Regions from separate parts of the Homo sapiens genome. Here region 2 is linked to region 1. Evidence: fine-mapped expression QTL. Tissue or cell type: pancreas. Region 1 holds a variant in brackets; the other region holds the start of a gene. All regions are shown on one strand. Distances are from middle to middle.

Region 1 (7,905 bases):
TTGAACACAAAGACCATTATCGGTAGGGGAAGGGAGACTTGGAGAGTTTATATGATTGACAAAAGTCACCCAAGTTGTTTGTGAGCCAGGACTGGAACAGAGCTTTTTGGGCGTCTAGCCAGTGTTCTTCCCCAGTGCATTACATAGAATGAATTTGTTGTACTACAACACTAATGTTCTGTAACGTTTCCCTGAAGACCGTGTTACAATAGTGATCTTCATTTATATATGTATTTTTCGTTTTATATATTTAGGTTGATTGTGTCTATATTTAGACCTCATAATTTAAATTGCTTACAATGACTCATTCATTTGCCCAATGTTTGTTGAATACTTGCTGTGTGCCAGGTTCTATCATAGGTTCTAGGAATACAAAGATGTGTAAAACATGATTCTTGCTCTTAAATATAATAACTCTCAGCCCGGTGGAGGAAATAAACACATTTAAAATCAAGAATAGTGCAAATACAAAGAAAGCTAGACCAAGTTTATGATGCAATCAAAGAGGCAGGCACCCAACTGAGGTTAGGAGGGTGAGAAATGGTAGCAGCCCAGGAGAAAGGTTTTCTGAGGATGTAACACCTACACTATGTCTTAAATGAGTAGCTATCAAGGCCAGGTGGGACAATATATAAGCATTTCATCCCTCAGATTCTAAGAGATGACAGTCATTATGTTATGGGACTCTGTACTCACATTTACAGTTGTCATTAACCTAGCAAGATCTTGCAATGCACTTTGGGGATCTTGCAAATAATATCTGTTGCTTGATTTGCAATGAGCTCTGAGATTCCACTTCCTATAGGGTCTAATAGTAGTCTTAGCAGAAACCAGAAGTCTGGAAAAAGGTGAAGGAAATAATTTCAGTGAAGAACTTATATCTCTACTAAAAACAAACCTGCCCAAGAATTCTTCCATATCTGCCTCCCCTTGTCCAGGTCTTCCTCATCCCTTCAGACTGAGTACAAATTCCACTTCTAGGAAGCCTTTCCTGATTTCTCCAATCAGAAGTGGTCTCTCTGTTTTCTGAAGGCACAGAGGTATTAGTGCCTCTTGTATGATATCTAGTGTGTCCTACCTTAATTGCAGTTTCAGAAATGTACCTCACTCTCATACCTCAAAGATGTGAGGGATGGAGGGAGGAGCTGGAGCTTCAGGGGATATCACCCCCAGGGGTATCAGGAAGACATGGTAGAAAGTTGAATCAGCCCAAAGCAGAGGAGTCAATATCCACAGACATTTCCTCTCTAGTCTCTCTTCTCACTCCATTCAACCTCCCACCAGACAACCTGTCCATCCCAACCTACATTCACTTACCCGAAGCTGATTTGCTAGATTATTCTTCCAGGTTGTTGTATAGTGTTTCCTGGGCTTGCAACACCCTCACCATCCTTGTTCACTCCACAAACACCTACCCAAGCATTGCCTGTTTTTTTTTACCCTTCTCAGACCCTTCCCTCTCTGCCCCACCCCCAGTTAAGCTCAATGACCCCTTTCAGCTTCACTGGAGCCTCGATATATTTCTGTTGTAGCACCTTCAACACCATCATACTTCTTGATGTATAGGCTACTGGATGGTGAGCAGCTTGAGGTCACAAACTATGTCTTATTTATTTAAATGTCTCCAGTACCTAATGAATGGGTAAATGAATGAATTTGTATTCTTCTTTTGTCTTCCTTAGAAACTTCCTTCCAGAAACTTTGCTTTATTCGTCGGTATGACCCCCGTCACAGCACCCTTTACTTGGTAGCCTCACAATAGATGTTTACTGTTGAATGAATGAATCTAGTTATTCACACACATACTTTGACATACCAACCCACAACATTGTAATACTGAGTTGATTCTTTTTAGAATGCCCTATAAAAATGAAGTGTATTTTAAATGTTTCTCAAAAGAATCCAACTTTGTTAACAGTTTTTAGCCCTCAAACCCCCCATGATGCATCACCTAAGTGCCATATGTCTCTCACAGGATGAAGCTACTTGCAGAACAATCTGGCAAAGGTCATCCTAGGAGCACACCTCAGGAACTCCTCACTTTCTGTTCCTCCTCTTTCTGTTCCCCACACTTCCCAGGGCAACAGGAATGGGTCAAGGCACACCATGTAGTGATGGGCCAGCAAGCGGATCAAAGGAAAGAGAAGACTTCAGTCAATAGTCTTCTCACTGTGGCTTTCCTCTTCCCCATATTCTGCACTTTCTGTGACCATATCTCATGACTGATGTCAATGTGAATGAGGAAGGTTAAGAGAGAATCCCAAACATAAGTTTAGCCTCAAGTTCCTATATGCTTCCTAAGCAAACTTTTATCAGAGATGCAAATGAGAACCTCCTGAACCCAGGTGTAAATGCTCCAAAGTCCTCTCTTTAATGCTTTTGCAGAAATGAAGTCAGAATAAAAACCAGTGGTTACAGTGAGCAGACACGGTGCCCCTCCCCTTCCTCCACTGATTGCTTCTTCACCTACTGAGACAGCCTCTCTTTCCCAGAGGATTGAGGGGACTCAGGACTCACACACAAGCTTGAGTTCTGCTTGTGGCTTCAATCATTCTGCTTAGGAGGTACAGAAGGGCCAAATGGTGCTGGACCATGGATGCATGAGAGCTGTTTCTGGCCCAGAGTTAAGGCATGAGAAAGGAAGGCGATGCTTAGGAAAGGCCCGTGAAAAAAAGATTTGCAGAAGAGAAGTCTTCTCTTCATTCTTTCTTAGGCCATCAGAGATCCTCAGTCTATATGGTGGAGCCTTTTTATGAAATGGAAAAAATGGCCCACCTATAGGAGAATGCAACCCCTCAGACACAGGTGCTCAGGCTGGAAAGTAGAGACCCCACTGAATTTCAGGCCCCAGCCATCTCTGCCAGCTGTCTTTACATGTATACCACTGCATGCAGCAGCCTCAAGACCACCACCTAGCCTATGTCTCACTCCCTCCTGCCTAAACTCTCGGTACCTACCAGCTGCAGCACACTCCAGATTCAACACCCACCCTGGATGGGGCTGAGACCAGAGTGCCCATCTCTGTTTTACGGAAGGAAAAACTGTTACCTCTCTCACCCCTCCACTGCTTTCCTACATCTTTGCTGCCCTACATGCCCCACCATTTCCTCACCTCTCTCTGTCTCTCTTTCCCCTCAGGCCAGGAGGAACCAGTGTGACTCCATGCTGCTCAGAAACCAACAGCTGTGCTCCACATGTCAAGAAATGAAAATGGTAGGCAAGGGGGAAGACAGAAATGGGCACAGGCATCTCAGGGTGCAGCACTGCCCTTCCCAGCCAAGCCCTGTGGGGAGAGATAGTGACGGGGCCCGTTGCAAGGAGGGCCTAGATAAAGGCTGCCAAGGAGGAACTGTTGGTCCTGGGAGCAGCATCGACTGACAGAACATGATAAACCTTCTCCGTTTCAACAAGCTAAAGGGTAACCAGGATAGATGGGCCAGAGTAGAGATGCAATGAGACACTTCGCCTTGGGCTCCTAAGTAACTACAGCCTCTCAGAGGCTTAGGGGATTATGGAGCTCCTTCTCCCTCCTTAATGTAGCCCCCACACAACACATAGGCTCACACTCATTTCTCCACCGTTACAATCAGGAGACAAACAGCTTCATCTTTGGGTTTACTGTTAATTTAGGTAGCACCTCAAGAGAAAGACTGGGGAGAGAGTCTACAGTACTTTCTAGGTAGTCAGGGGCGGTGTCACCTGCTTTGGGTATTTGTAACATATAGTGGAGAATGGTGGTAGGGGAGGAATATTAGGAAAAGAAAGAAGGAAAGCAAGGGAGATGTGGAGGGAACAAAGACAAACTTCTGCCATGCCATCTATCACAGTTGCTGAATCAGAGGCCTGATTCAGGAAGGATGCTAGACTAGGCTGGAGTTAGGCCTTCGGTAATTTAAGAATTAGAGTTAGCGCTGGGATGGTTGTTAGCGTCAGGGTAAGGAAGAGGCTTTGGTTAAGGGTTAATTTAGCAACATGGTTAGGTTTGAGGTACGAGCTGGAGAAGGGTTTCTTCAACTCTGATATCCTATAATTCTCCTTTGACTTGGGGAGGAAGGTGGGGCTAAATGTGTAGGCTAAACGTGCTTTAAAAGAATGGAAGAAAAATAGAAGATATAAGAAAAGCTCCTTCACTGAGTTCATGGCAAGTCTTAGGTCCAGTCGGATGTGAAAGAGAGTGGCACTTTTGTGAAATTTTTATGTGGGATTTACAAATTTAACTGAAGCTACCGGCAAAGCTGCACCTTGATGTTGCCATCTATGTTCATTTTCTACATAATTAGGGTCACTGTGTTAAATATTAGCATTGGCTGGAGTCTGGGAAACTAGGATTGGGATTTCTCCTGGTCTTATTCCTGGAATCCCTTGTGTCCACATTTAGAATGCACCAACCCCAGGCCTAAGCTGGCCTTGGCCAGCTGGCACACTTGGGACATCAGCAGCC[A/G]TCCTCTTTCTCAAGACCTCTTCTCTGACCTTTGCCCTTGTCCAGGAATGATAGAAGTGGAGCCACATGCTGCAATTTTACCATTTATTGAAGCTTCTAAAAGGAAGGGCTTCAAACACAAAAGTGCCCAGGGACCCTTCTGTACTGCTGTCAGAACCTGGTGATAAACTACAGAAAGTTAGAAAATAAACATGAAATATCCTTGCCTCACTCTATGCAGTAATACCTCAAAGTCCTCCCAAGGGGAGGGACTGCAGGTCTGCTGTAGTCACTGTGATACCCCTTCTTTCTCAGCAGTGAGTTGAATAGAAATACTGGGGAATATATAAAAAGACTCCTAGGAATAGAAGGGAACTTCCTCAACCTAATAAAGAGCAGCTTGAAAAACTAACAGCTAACACCCTACTTAATGGTAAAAGACTGGATACTTTCCCCTAAGATTAGAAACAGGGCAACAATGTCTGCTCCTGACACTTCTACTCAACATTTTACTATACATTCTAGCCAGAAAGATAAGAAAAAGAAATAAAATCCATCCACATTAGAAAGAAAGAAGTACAACTAGTCTATTTGCAGATGATATGCTCTTATATAGCGAAAGTCCTAAGGAATGCACAGAAAACTATTAGAGCTAATAAATGAGTACAGCAGTGTTGAGGATACAAGATCAGTATATAAACCTTAATTTCTATTAATAGCAGTGAACAACCCAAAAATGAAGAAAACAATGCCATTTGTAATAGCATCAAAAATTATTTAGGAATAAATTTAACACGAGAAGCACAAGAGCTATACAATGAAAAGTATAAAACATTGTGGAAAGAAAATTTAAAAGGCCTAAATAAATGGAAAGAACCCCATGTTTATAGATTGGAACACTTAATATTGTAAAGATGAATATACTCCGCCAAACTGATCTACATATTTAATGTAATCCTCAAAATCCCAGATGCCATTTTTATAGAAATTTGCAATCATATCTTAAAATTTATATTAAAATGCAAGAGATCCAGGATAGCCAAACAATCTTTAAAAAGAAGAACGAAGTTGGAGGTCTCATACTTCTTGATTTTAAAACTAACTACAAAGCTATGGTCAGGACTGTGTGGTACTGCCATAAAGATAGACAAATAGATAAATGGAATAAAATTGAAAGTTCAGAAGTAAATTCTTATGTTTATAAACAATTGATTTTTGACAAAGGCACCAAGACAGTTCAATGAGGAAAGAATAGTATTTTCAATAAGTGGTACGGGGGCAGCTGCATAGATACATGCAAAAGAATGAATTTGTACCTCTTCCTCACACCATGTACAAAAATAACTCAAAATAGGTCAAAGAGCTAAATGTAAGACCTAAAACCATAAAACTCTTAGAAGAAAACATAGGTATAAAGCTTCATGACCTTGGATAAGGCAATGGTTTCTAAGATAGGACACCCAAAGCACAAACAACAAAAGGATATAGATAAATCAGTCTTCATAAAAATTTTAAACTTTTGTTCCACAAAGAACACCATCAAGAACACGAAAAGACAACCCAAATATTTGCAAATCAACAGATGAAGGATTATGTCAGATAAGGGACTAGTATCTGGAATATATAAGGAACACTTAAAACTCAACAATAAAAAGGCAAACACTCTAGTTGAAAAGTGAGCAAAAAGTTTCAATAGACATTCTCTAAAGAAGATCTACAAATGACCAATAAACACATGAAAAGATACTCAACATTATTTGTTGTAAAGCAAATGCAAATCAAAACCACAATGAGACACACTTTCCATCCACTAGGATGGTTGTAATAATAATAATAATAAAACGGTGGATAATAACAAGTGTTGGCCAGGATGTGGAGAAATTAGAAGCCTCAAAAATTGCTGATGGGAATGTAAAACAGTACAGTTGCTTTGGAAAACAGTTTGGGAATTCCTCAAAACCTTAGACACAGAGTTACCATATGACCCAGCAATTCCATTCCTAGATATGTACCCAAGAGAACTAAAAACATATTCACACACAAAATTCTACAAGAATGCACATAGCAGCCATATCTTAATAGCTGAAAAGTGGAAATAACCCAAATGCCTAGGGCTTGATTAATGGATAAACAAAACGTTGTCTATCTATATAATAGAATATTAATCATAAAAAAGAATGAAATACTAAAACATGCTATAACATGGATGAACCTTGAAAACATTTTGCTAAGTAAAAGAAACCAGATGCAAAAGATCACATATTATACTGGTTCCATTTATATGAAATGTCCAAAATAGGAAAATTCAGAGACAGAAAATAGACAGTGGTTGTCAAAGATTGGGGAGAGGAGTGAGTGAGAAGCAATTGCTAATAGGTATGTGGTTTCTTTTTGGGGTCATGAACTGTTCTAGGAATAAACAATGGTGGTTGTTTTACAACTTTCTGAATATACTAAAAACTACTAAATTGCACATTAAGATGGTGACTTATGATACATGATATCATAAACACCGATAAAAAGAAATTAGCACTAAATAAAAGCACAAAATAGATGAATCTCAAAAAAATGTAAATAGGACCTGGTTATGTAACTACTCATATTCCTATGTAACCTTGGGCTAGAAGCTCAATCATTCAGTGCAGAAGAAATACCTGCTGACAGTTATGGTTGTGAATCACCAGTGATATTTGCCTTGGTTTTATCTAGGCTGTGTTTCATCATGTCTCTGCTCCAAACAGCTCATCTTCCCCTTAATGCACCTATTCTGTAGTCCTTCTGTTATCTGCATTACTCTCTAATTAACACCTTCAAGCCCCTTAAAAGTAGGACCATCAAGCTAGACAACTGTAAACAGATATTCTCTAACATATATTAAAAAATAGTTTCAAAATAAATTAAGTTTATTTCAACAAATATTGATTGATTGTCTGCCATGGGCCAGGTACTTAGGTAAACTACAAAGAAAAAAAAAGAAATACATAAGACCTGTCTTTAAGGAGTCAACAAATAAATAAATAATGACAACAGAATGTAATCAATATAAACAGAAATAGATCTGATGGGGAGTGAAGGGGCAGTGAAAGTAAATATCAAGGAAGTCTTCCTTGAAGAAAAAGACTATTCAGGGTTTTCAAGAATGAATAGGAGTCTCCCACAGTACACTTTTTCTCAAAAACAAAAATCCTGTCTTTGGCAGGCAGCTTTGTTCTGATGCAGCCCCTGTAGCACAGTTCATTCATACAATAGCGCTAGCTGGATTTAGGGGATTTAGAACAGCAATCATGCTATTCAGGAGGAGTTACAGTTTCCTGCATCTTCCCTTGGAGCAGAGTCAACTTTAGATAAATTTTTGAATAAAGCAGTCTGTCTCTGGCACATTCTCAGCCACTTTTATGTTTAGAAATCTCTCCTCAGGTTCTTACTAAAGCCTTGGCTGCCCCCACTATGCCCAGAGGCTCTTTGTTACCAGATCAGCTCCTTCC
Region 2 (7,905 bases), 76 kb after region 1:
TTGTAAATCTGCAACTCCTGACTTTCCTACTCATATAATGGCACATACGTTCTTAGAAATTGGACCATCTTTGATGTCTCCTTCTCTGTCACCCACATGTAATCATTCCCTTCCTCTAGTTGATTCCATTATGAGCCTATTCAATTCATGTATCTTCAAAATAAACATATGTTAACGCAGTGATAGAAGACTGAATTTGGGATCACAAAGTAGAATTTTTAAAAAGGGAAATCTTACCTTTTGTTATTTGCAGTAAAAACAGAACCGTGCATGCCAACATTGCACTCTGTGATCTTCCCGCCCTCAGATCTTCCCGCCCTCAAGAGACTGAGTTCTCAGACTGTACTAATAAAGCAATCTATGTCTTCTTCTGATTTCTACCTTTACCTCCTGAAGTGGCCAAATTACCAGTGCTCTGTTAAGGTAGATTAGGCTAAGTAGTTAAGGCTCTTTTCAGGTAGGTAGTAACTAAATAAAGAAGGTATATGCTATTCTACACACATATTTATATATATAAAGAAGATGATCGGGGGGACAGTTTTAAAAGTTCTGTTTATACTTTTTATGCGGTTAAAATGTTAAGTGCTGATTGCCACATTCACCATTTTTCCATCTTATTTAGTCTCTTTTATTGTCCATTTGTCTGTTTTCCATTCCCCAACCTTTCTTTGACTGATTTCCAGGAAACTTCTGTTTTAACTGACTTTTACTCTGGAAGCATCTAAATGTCATTGGTCTCTAAGATCCTTTGGAGACATATAGGATCTCAGCATTTTGTAATATTGAAAGGAGCAGGTAATTTTTCAACTAAATCAAAATACATAAAAGCTTGCTCATGAAATACCACCATCTTAGACAACACAGTTCTCTTGGGTGTCTTAAATATGATTTGTATATGAGATAAAGAACAAACGAGATAGCCAGAAGGGGTTGGTTCCTTTTCTAAGGTCTGCTTGTTCTCTTTTACCATAAGCAAACAGAGTATCTGATCTTTATCAAGGCAGGGACTTGAGCTGCCCAGAGTTTCTGGTTTAGTCACCCTTTTAGGAATGGGAGAACTCATGTTCATTGTGCAGTTTAGGCCCTAGTGACTTGCTGAATAATCCAAGGATCTGCAGGGCAAACGAGTTATCCTGTGTGTGGTCAGTGCTTTATAGATTTTATTGAATTGGGAGATTCTGTTACAGCAGGGTTTCTCAACCTTGGCACTTTTGACTTTTTGGCCAAATAATTTTTGTTGTGGAGGGCTTTCTTGTGCACCGTAGGATGTGAAACAGCATCCCTGGCCTCTACTCACTAGATGCCAGTAGTACTTCTCCAATGTGACAAGCAAAAAATGTGTTCACACAATGCCAATCTCACCCTGGGGGGAAGTCTGCCCCAGGTTGAGAATTACTGTATTATAGTTAAGGGGTGGTTGATAGTGGTTACTTAGCCTAAGCCTTAAAAGATTATATATATAATTAAATATTATATATGAAAGATTATACATTATACATGCTCTTTTTCTATATTCTTTCTTGCCATTTTTGGCATATGTTATACTTTTAAGTATGGTGACATTCATCTATACTAGTTTTATTTTATATAACTATTACTCACTTTCTTATACTTGTCTATTGAGTTGTAAGAAAATTTTCTCTGTTCTTTTTCTCATTATATTTAACAGATATGTGGAAAAATGTCTACCAGTTCTTTAAAGGTCAGCTCTATGGAACTTCTATTTATTTCATCTGAAGTCTTAGAATAGGAAAGAATCAACACAAATATAGAAAGTCACGTGAAGAAGCTAATTTATGGGGAAAATGAGTTCAATTTTGTGCAGGTAAAATTGGAAGTGATAGAATAATATGTCCAGCAACTACTTGAAAAGAGGATGGGATATAGGTTTAGGAGTCAACAGTATAGTTGAAAATTAAAATTGCTCAAGAGAAAAATGGAAAAAGCTCGGAGTAGTGAAGGATTAAACCTTAACATGAAACCATGGAAATGAAGCTGCAAAAAGAGAAAAGAACATTTATAGATTGAAATAGTAAAAGCTAATAATTGGATGATAATTAGGTGAATGGAAAGCCTACCACGGGGGTATTAATAAAGCTCCAACTGCAGGAGAAGGAAGGAAGGAAGGGAGGAAGGCAGGCAGGCAGTCAAGGAAGGAATGAAAGAGAAAGAAAAAAGTAAAATTATTTGTACTTGCATGTTTCAAAAAATCATTGCAGGGACTTGGTGGAAAATAAGTGGATGGGTTTGTGAGTTTGGGATGAGAGGGTTAGGAGATGTAACTTGATAACTTCCTAGATTTGAGATAAGCACGTATTCTAATATAACTTCTTTGGCTGTGATGCACTGAGGATCAGCTGAGGGATACCTCAGCTGTTTCCTATCCTGAATAAAAGTTCCTGGAGTAAGAGGAAAAGAGTGTCCAACATGGTAAAGAATGTCAATTTATCCCTACCCTTTCATTGCCCCTACTTTCTTTTAAACTTGCATATTAATCATTTGATACTGTTTTTGGGTGAGATAAATACTTGCTTCCCGCAATAGGTGACAGATGAAAGGATTTTATTGTCATATACTAAGAGTGGCATCAGCAGATAAGTGGAACTGTACCTAATTACTGCCAGAAAAGGCAGTTCAGGGTGAACTCCTTTAAAACAAAAATTATCACCCTTTGTATAATTTCTCTAACATCAAATTGACTTATATCCAAGAATCACAGAGCGGATCAAATCATTCAGTTCTTTGGGACTATAATTAACATCCAATTCAACTTAGAAGGTTCATAAGGAAATTCCGCGGCTCAAAATTAGGCGTTAGGTGGGCATTTTACTGAGGGTTTTTTCCCTACGGCCACATGAACAATAAGTAACCCGTCCTTTAAACATTTTTCACACTAAACATTATGCCATGTTCCAAGGCACAGACCATTGCAGCCTCCGTCCCCTCAGCGGCGTAAACACTTGGAATGGGCATGCTGCCCCGTTACTTAGTATTGAGAAGTGGTCACTTTTTGCTCTTCTTAGGTGAGTGTAAGCGACTGCCTTCCCCACTTTAGGTGAACCCCAGGACTTGGAGCGTCTGTGGGTGCTCCTCTAATGGGGACAACTCCTCCCTTCCGACTCCATCGCAGAGAACCCAAAGTTCGAAACCAACAGAACGAAAAGCAACGAAGCACACTTAAAGTGAGGAACCCGGCAAGCGGCGAAATTCTTGCTGAAGAGAAGAAAAAGCGAAAGGTTTTCCGCTGCAACCAATCAGATGAGAGGATTCTTGGCACGCCCCTTTCTATCTACCAATCAACATCTAGCTCAATGGGGCAGTCCATTGCCACAGGGAAAGGGCTTGGTGCAGCTTCCCTCACAACACACACGTCATTCTAGGCCATTCCACGAACTGTGCTCAAAAGAGGAAAACAGTGCAACAGTTCCAAAGCTGATCAGTCTCGTGGTGAGCAGCGAAACTATAGACTTCTCTAACAAAACCATGGATTCTAGGAGGGACTGGGAAAGAGAAAAACGAATTCTGGAAGGCAAACTACAACTCCCAAAGGCCCTTGCGCGGACTCAGCGCGCGAGGGACGAAGGGCGGTCCACTGTAAGGGGAAATGCTGAGGATCACTGGGCTCCTCCCGGCTTTCTGAACGCAAGCCAGCAAGTGGGCGGGACCTGGGGCGGGCGGAGCGGCGAGAGCATCTGCTCCTGCGCTTTGTGGTCTCCTGCCTCCGGCTTCTCCGCCTGCGACGTCGAAGGGGGCGTGGCCTGCGCAGAGGCTGGTGGGGGTGCGGGCGCCGCGGGACTTGGGTGACGCGTCCCTTTCCAGCTCAGCGGTGTGTGAGGTGTCGCGGCCCCGCCGGCGATTGGCTGTTGAGAGGCGAGTACGCGGCGGCCGTTGGTCGCTGGCCTCACGGAGCAAGGCCCCCGGCGGGCGGGGAGGATATGGGGCGGCAGTGGCGGCTGCAGGAGGCGGGCGTGGACGAGCCGGTGGCTGCAGCGGCGGCGGTCCCCGGAGTCCTGTGAAGCGCCCCTGTCCGCGCCTCTGTGGGGCCCTCAGAGAGGGCTGCCAGGACGCGAGCCACTGAGGAGCCGCTCAGCCAGCGCCATAGCCCTTAGGACTATCGGTCACATTCTCGCGCTCCTGCTCCGGCTCCTCCATCTTGGCCTCGGCAGTGGCGGCTGCCGGGAGGATGTGCCGCCTTCTGGCAGGGGGAAGAAGGAGGAGAAGATGAAGAAGCACCGGCGGGCCTTGGCCCTGGTCTCCTGCCTCTTTCTGTGCTCTCTGGTCTGGTGAGTAGCCGCGACGACAAGGGAGTTCCCGTGAGGGGAGTAAATGGGAGGGAGCAGCCCAGGTCACACCCCCTGGTCATTTTGGCTTTTAGGGTCCGGGTTTCCAAGGCCCCCGTGGAAGGGACAAACCGATTACTTCTCGACTCTCCATCTGACTGGTCTGGTAGTGCTCTGTGCGGAGATTTTCATGGTGTATTTTGGAATTTACAGAGACTCAGTGGGAGAGAGAGAGGTGCCAAGGTAGAGGGAACCACCAAGTGCCTTTGTACTCAGTTCCTCTACCCCTTGGAGACGGTGCAGGGTTTGGGGTGGGTGTTCAGATTGATGGTAAGTAAGTTGCTCCGATTTGCCGCCAGTCTTTGCGTTCTTAGTGTGGTAAGGGGATAAAGCACGTCGGATGTGATGCGTTCCGGACGTGCGATTTTAAAACGTGAGTGGTCATGAAGGTAAGAGTAATGTATAAGCAGTAGTTCTCCTGGACATTTCTCGCACAGCGTTTGATCCCAAGTACACTCGGGCCGCTGTTTTTGGAAACTTGGGGGGCGTGTGTGTATGTGTGTTATGAAGCACTTTTTCAATTGGTTTGGTGGAGAGGGTGTCTTAGATGTAGTGTGTGTAGTAGTTTTTGGTAATGCCCCTTAGTGACGGGAAGGTAAATGCTGTATTTTCAAGGCGGGAAGAGTGCTTTGTCCCTAAAGCACTCCTTAAGTTTTACGGAGTTTCTGTTAATCCCAGGCACTTCTGGAGTTTTTTGAGGAGCAGAGAAAGCTTGTAAGTCGAGGGACTGCTGTCACCGTACTTGGAAAAGCCATTCTTTCCTCCCAGGGAATTTCTTCAAAGATGTGTGACAATTGATGACTGAAAAGATGCTTCTTCAGTCTAGGCGATTTGCTGTTTGTTATATTAAAATAGAAATTAAGTTTCCTGTTTTGCTTATTTCTGCAAAGCACCAACACTATTTTCATTTTTATGGATGCCTTATGGATTCCAGAAGCACTGAAATTGTAGAGTTGTTGCTCACATAAAATAATACATAAACAAGGGGAAGAGAAAACACTCGCCTGGCTGAGGGATTTTTATTGGAAGAATGATAGAAGTTTTTGAGAACAAAAACAATTGACTTATTACCTTTCATTCTGAATCCTTTTAATACCCGTCTCCTGTTTTTAATAAAATCCTCCCCTTTCTACTTACTGTGTTGGGTACGGAGAAGTGCCTGTAAGAGATAAATCCACTCACCTCATTTTAAATTTAAATTTGTAGATACTGAAGCTTGTATTCATTTCCATCTCTTTCTGGGGCTGCCTAGTTATATTTGTAGACTGTGTATTTTCTTTCCTCTTTCTTCTTGGTCTTGCCCATCTTTAAACCATGTTATTCATCATCAAAAGTTTCTGAAATGGCTAATAAGGAAAAGGTGAACACTTTCATTCAAGTTTAAAAACACACCAGTATCTCTGGCTTTTTTTAATTTTTTAATTGGATGGTGTAAACGAAATCAAGCAATAGAATGTGATTCTTACAATCATTTGTAAATTTAAGTTAACTCTGCTTCTATTTCTTTTGGGAATTTCTGGCTATCTTTTGATTAAGCTAACCCTCAGTATGTTTTCTCACCTTCAATCATTAGCTCTAGTGAAGAGCTAATGAATTTCCCTGTTAGGGAACAAATCGGTTGGCCTGGTATTGAAAGTAGTAGTAATAAACTTCTGTCAAGTTTTTTAACTCCTAGTGAGGAAAATGGATGTGGAGAGTTTAAGAGTGTGAACATTTTAAGAAACTTTAGCTTAAGAAACTATTGGGTTAGTATATTTTGAGATTTGTTTAGACTGCCAAATTTAGAGACATTTTAATTATTCTTTAGCAAAACGATTAAAAGGCATTAAAATAGGACATTAAGGCTTAAAGGGTTTTTTAAAGGGTGATGATGATGAATGAGATTGGGGAAGAGGAGTGGTACCTGGTGCTGATTGGCAAAGGGTATGTTTTTTCTTTGAAGCCTCTGCTTTTGTGCCAAGTTGGAATTAATGGCACTTAATGGATTTCTAACTTTTGCTGCAATCTGGTGTGGTATTTCTTTTCCCAACAACCTCATTCCCTTTAACAGAAATGGCTACCAACAAGTCCTAGGGTTAGATAAAACGTTTGCAAGAGTTGATGAGTGCCTTTTAGTAGCCACTTTTGTCTCTTTTGTTATTCACAAATTGTCTCAAAATTTTGTGATCCGTTTCTGTTTTGTACATTGAGTGCTGTATGTCTGTTCTACAGTATTCTAGTTTCTGAGGTTTCCCCTCTCATGCTACCAATATTACTGTGTTATGTTTACTATCATAATTTTGTAGATCTTGATTATGTCTCCCCTCTGCTTTTGTCTTGTAGCCTTGAGTACTAACCTTAGATTATGTTTACAGAAAAACCATTTCATCTATGTCATTATTAATTTTTGTTGCTGTTTTTTCCTTTTGCATAGTTTATAATTTTTGATCAAGTAGTATAGAGTATTCTAGGCATAAATGCACTATAGCTGCAGCACAGAGCAATGATAGCTAATATTTGCTGACAGCTGTGTGTCAGACACATGATGTTTACTTGACAATAACACCTTTAATCTTTATAAGAACCCTATAAGATAGGTATTATTATTAACTTCCTTTTGCATTTTACATGTGAGGAAGTAGAGAGGTTAACTTGGCTAAGTTTAAGCAGCTGTTAAGCTTCGGAGCTTAAATTTGAACCTAGGCAGCACAGGCTCCTGAGTACTTTATAGGTCAGAGGCCTGTATTTTATATATGTGGCTCCATCATTTACTAGATATGTGTTCTTTGACTTGTTATGTAACTTCTTTGAACCTTAGTTGTTATATCCTCAGAATGGGGAAATTGATCCATTCATACTTCACAGGGTTGTTAGGAGGATGAAATAATACAAATGACAGATCTTTGTAACACAGTAACAGCGTATTATGTAAATATTTCATCATAACATTATTCAACCACATTTTGTTCTCATACCTACTGTGCCAGATGTTTTTATGAGCACCGAAAATCCAAGATAGAGGGTCACCAGCTTGTCTTGGTTTTAACACTGGAAGTCGCATAACCTAGGAATTCCCTGCATTAGTTTCTTATGCCTGCTGTAGCAAATTGACACAAATTTAGTGGCTTGAACAACACACATTTATTACCTTACAATTCTGTGGATGAGAAGTCCAAGATATGTCTCACAGGGCTAAATAAAGTTAAGATGTCAACTGGGCTCGTTCTTTTTGGAGGCTCTGAGGGGAGAATCTTTTTCTAGAGGCCACCTGTATTCTGTGGCCCCTTCCTCACATCAGCACTCCAACCCTTTTTTCAGTCCTTATGTCTACTAATGACTGGTCCTCCTGCCTCTTCCTCTTATAAGGACTATTGTGATTACATTGGGTCCAGCCAGACATTCCAGGATAATCTCCCTATCTCATAATCCTTAATTTAATCACATCTGCAAAATCTCTTTTACTATGTAAGGTAACATATTTAGGGATTAGGATGCAGACATCTTTGAGGGGGGCGCATTATTCAGCCTATACCCTATACCATACTCCCTCAGTCCTGGGCAAACTGGGAAAGCTGCATCACCCTAA

Direction of the effects. Positions count from the first base shown, and alleles are read on the strand shown. Sizes are in standard deviations (SD) of each study's normalised expression.
For the expression in pancreas of the gene that starts at base 3,936 in region 2, allele A in region 1 goes with a lower level than allele G (moderate effect, 0.60 SD a copy in GTEx).

What was found. PIP is the estimated chance that this variant, and not a neighbour inherited with it, causes the effect.
Region 2: it holds the start of SUCO, and the variant in region 1 is fine-mapped to the expression of SUCO in pancreas (GTEx, PIP 0.98).

The regions. Positions count from the first base shown.
Region 1 is chr1:172,453,277-172,461,181 of GRCh38, forward strand. It overlaps C1orf105 (chromosome 1 open reading frame 105), which reads left to right. Exons shown (of 7, transcript NM_139240.4): 4 at 3,139-3,213. Among named protein-coding and RNA genes, the nearest start is that of PIGC, 13 kb to the left of the region's middle. The variant A/G (reference allele first, on the strand shown) is at 4,442.
Region 2 is chr1:172,529,215-172,537,119 of GRCh38, forward strand. It overlaps SUCO (SUN domain containing ossification factor), which reads left to right and starts at 3,936. Exons shown (of 24, transcript NM_014283.5): 1 at 3,936-4,283. The coding sequence starts at 4,222. RefSeq lists enhancers at 3,135-3,244, 3,305-3,554, 4,165-4,324 and a silencer at 3,875-4,044.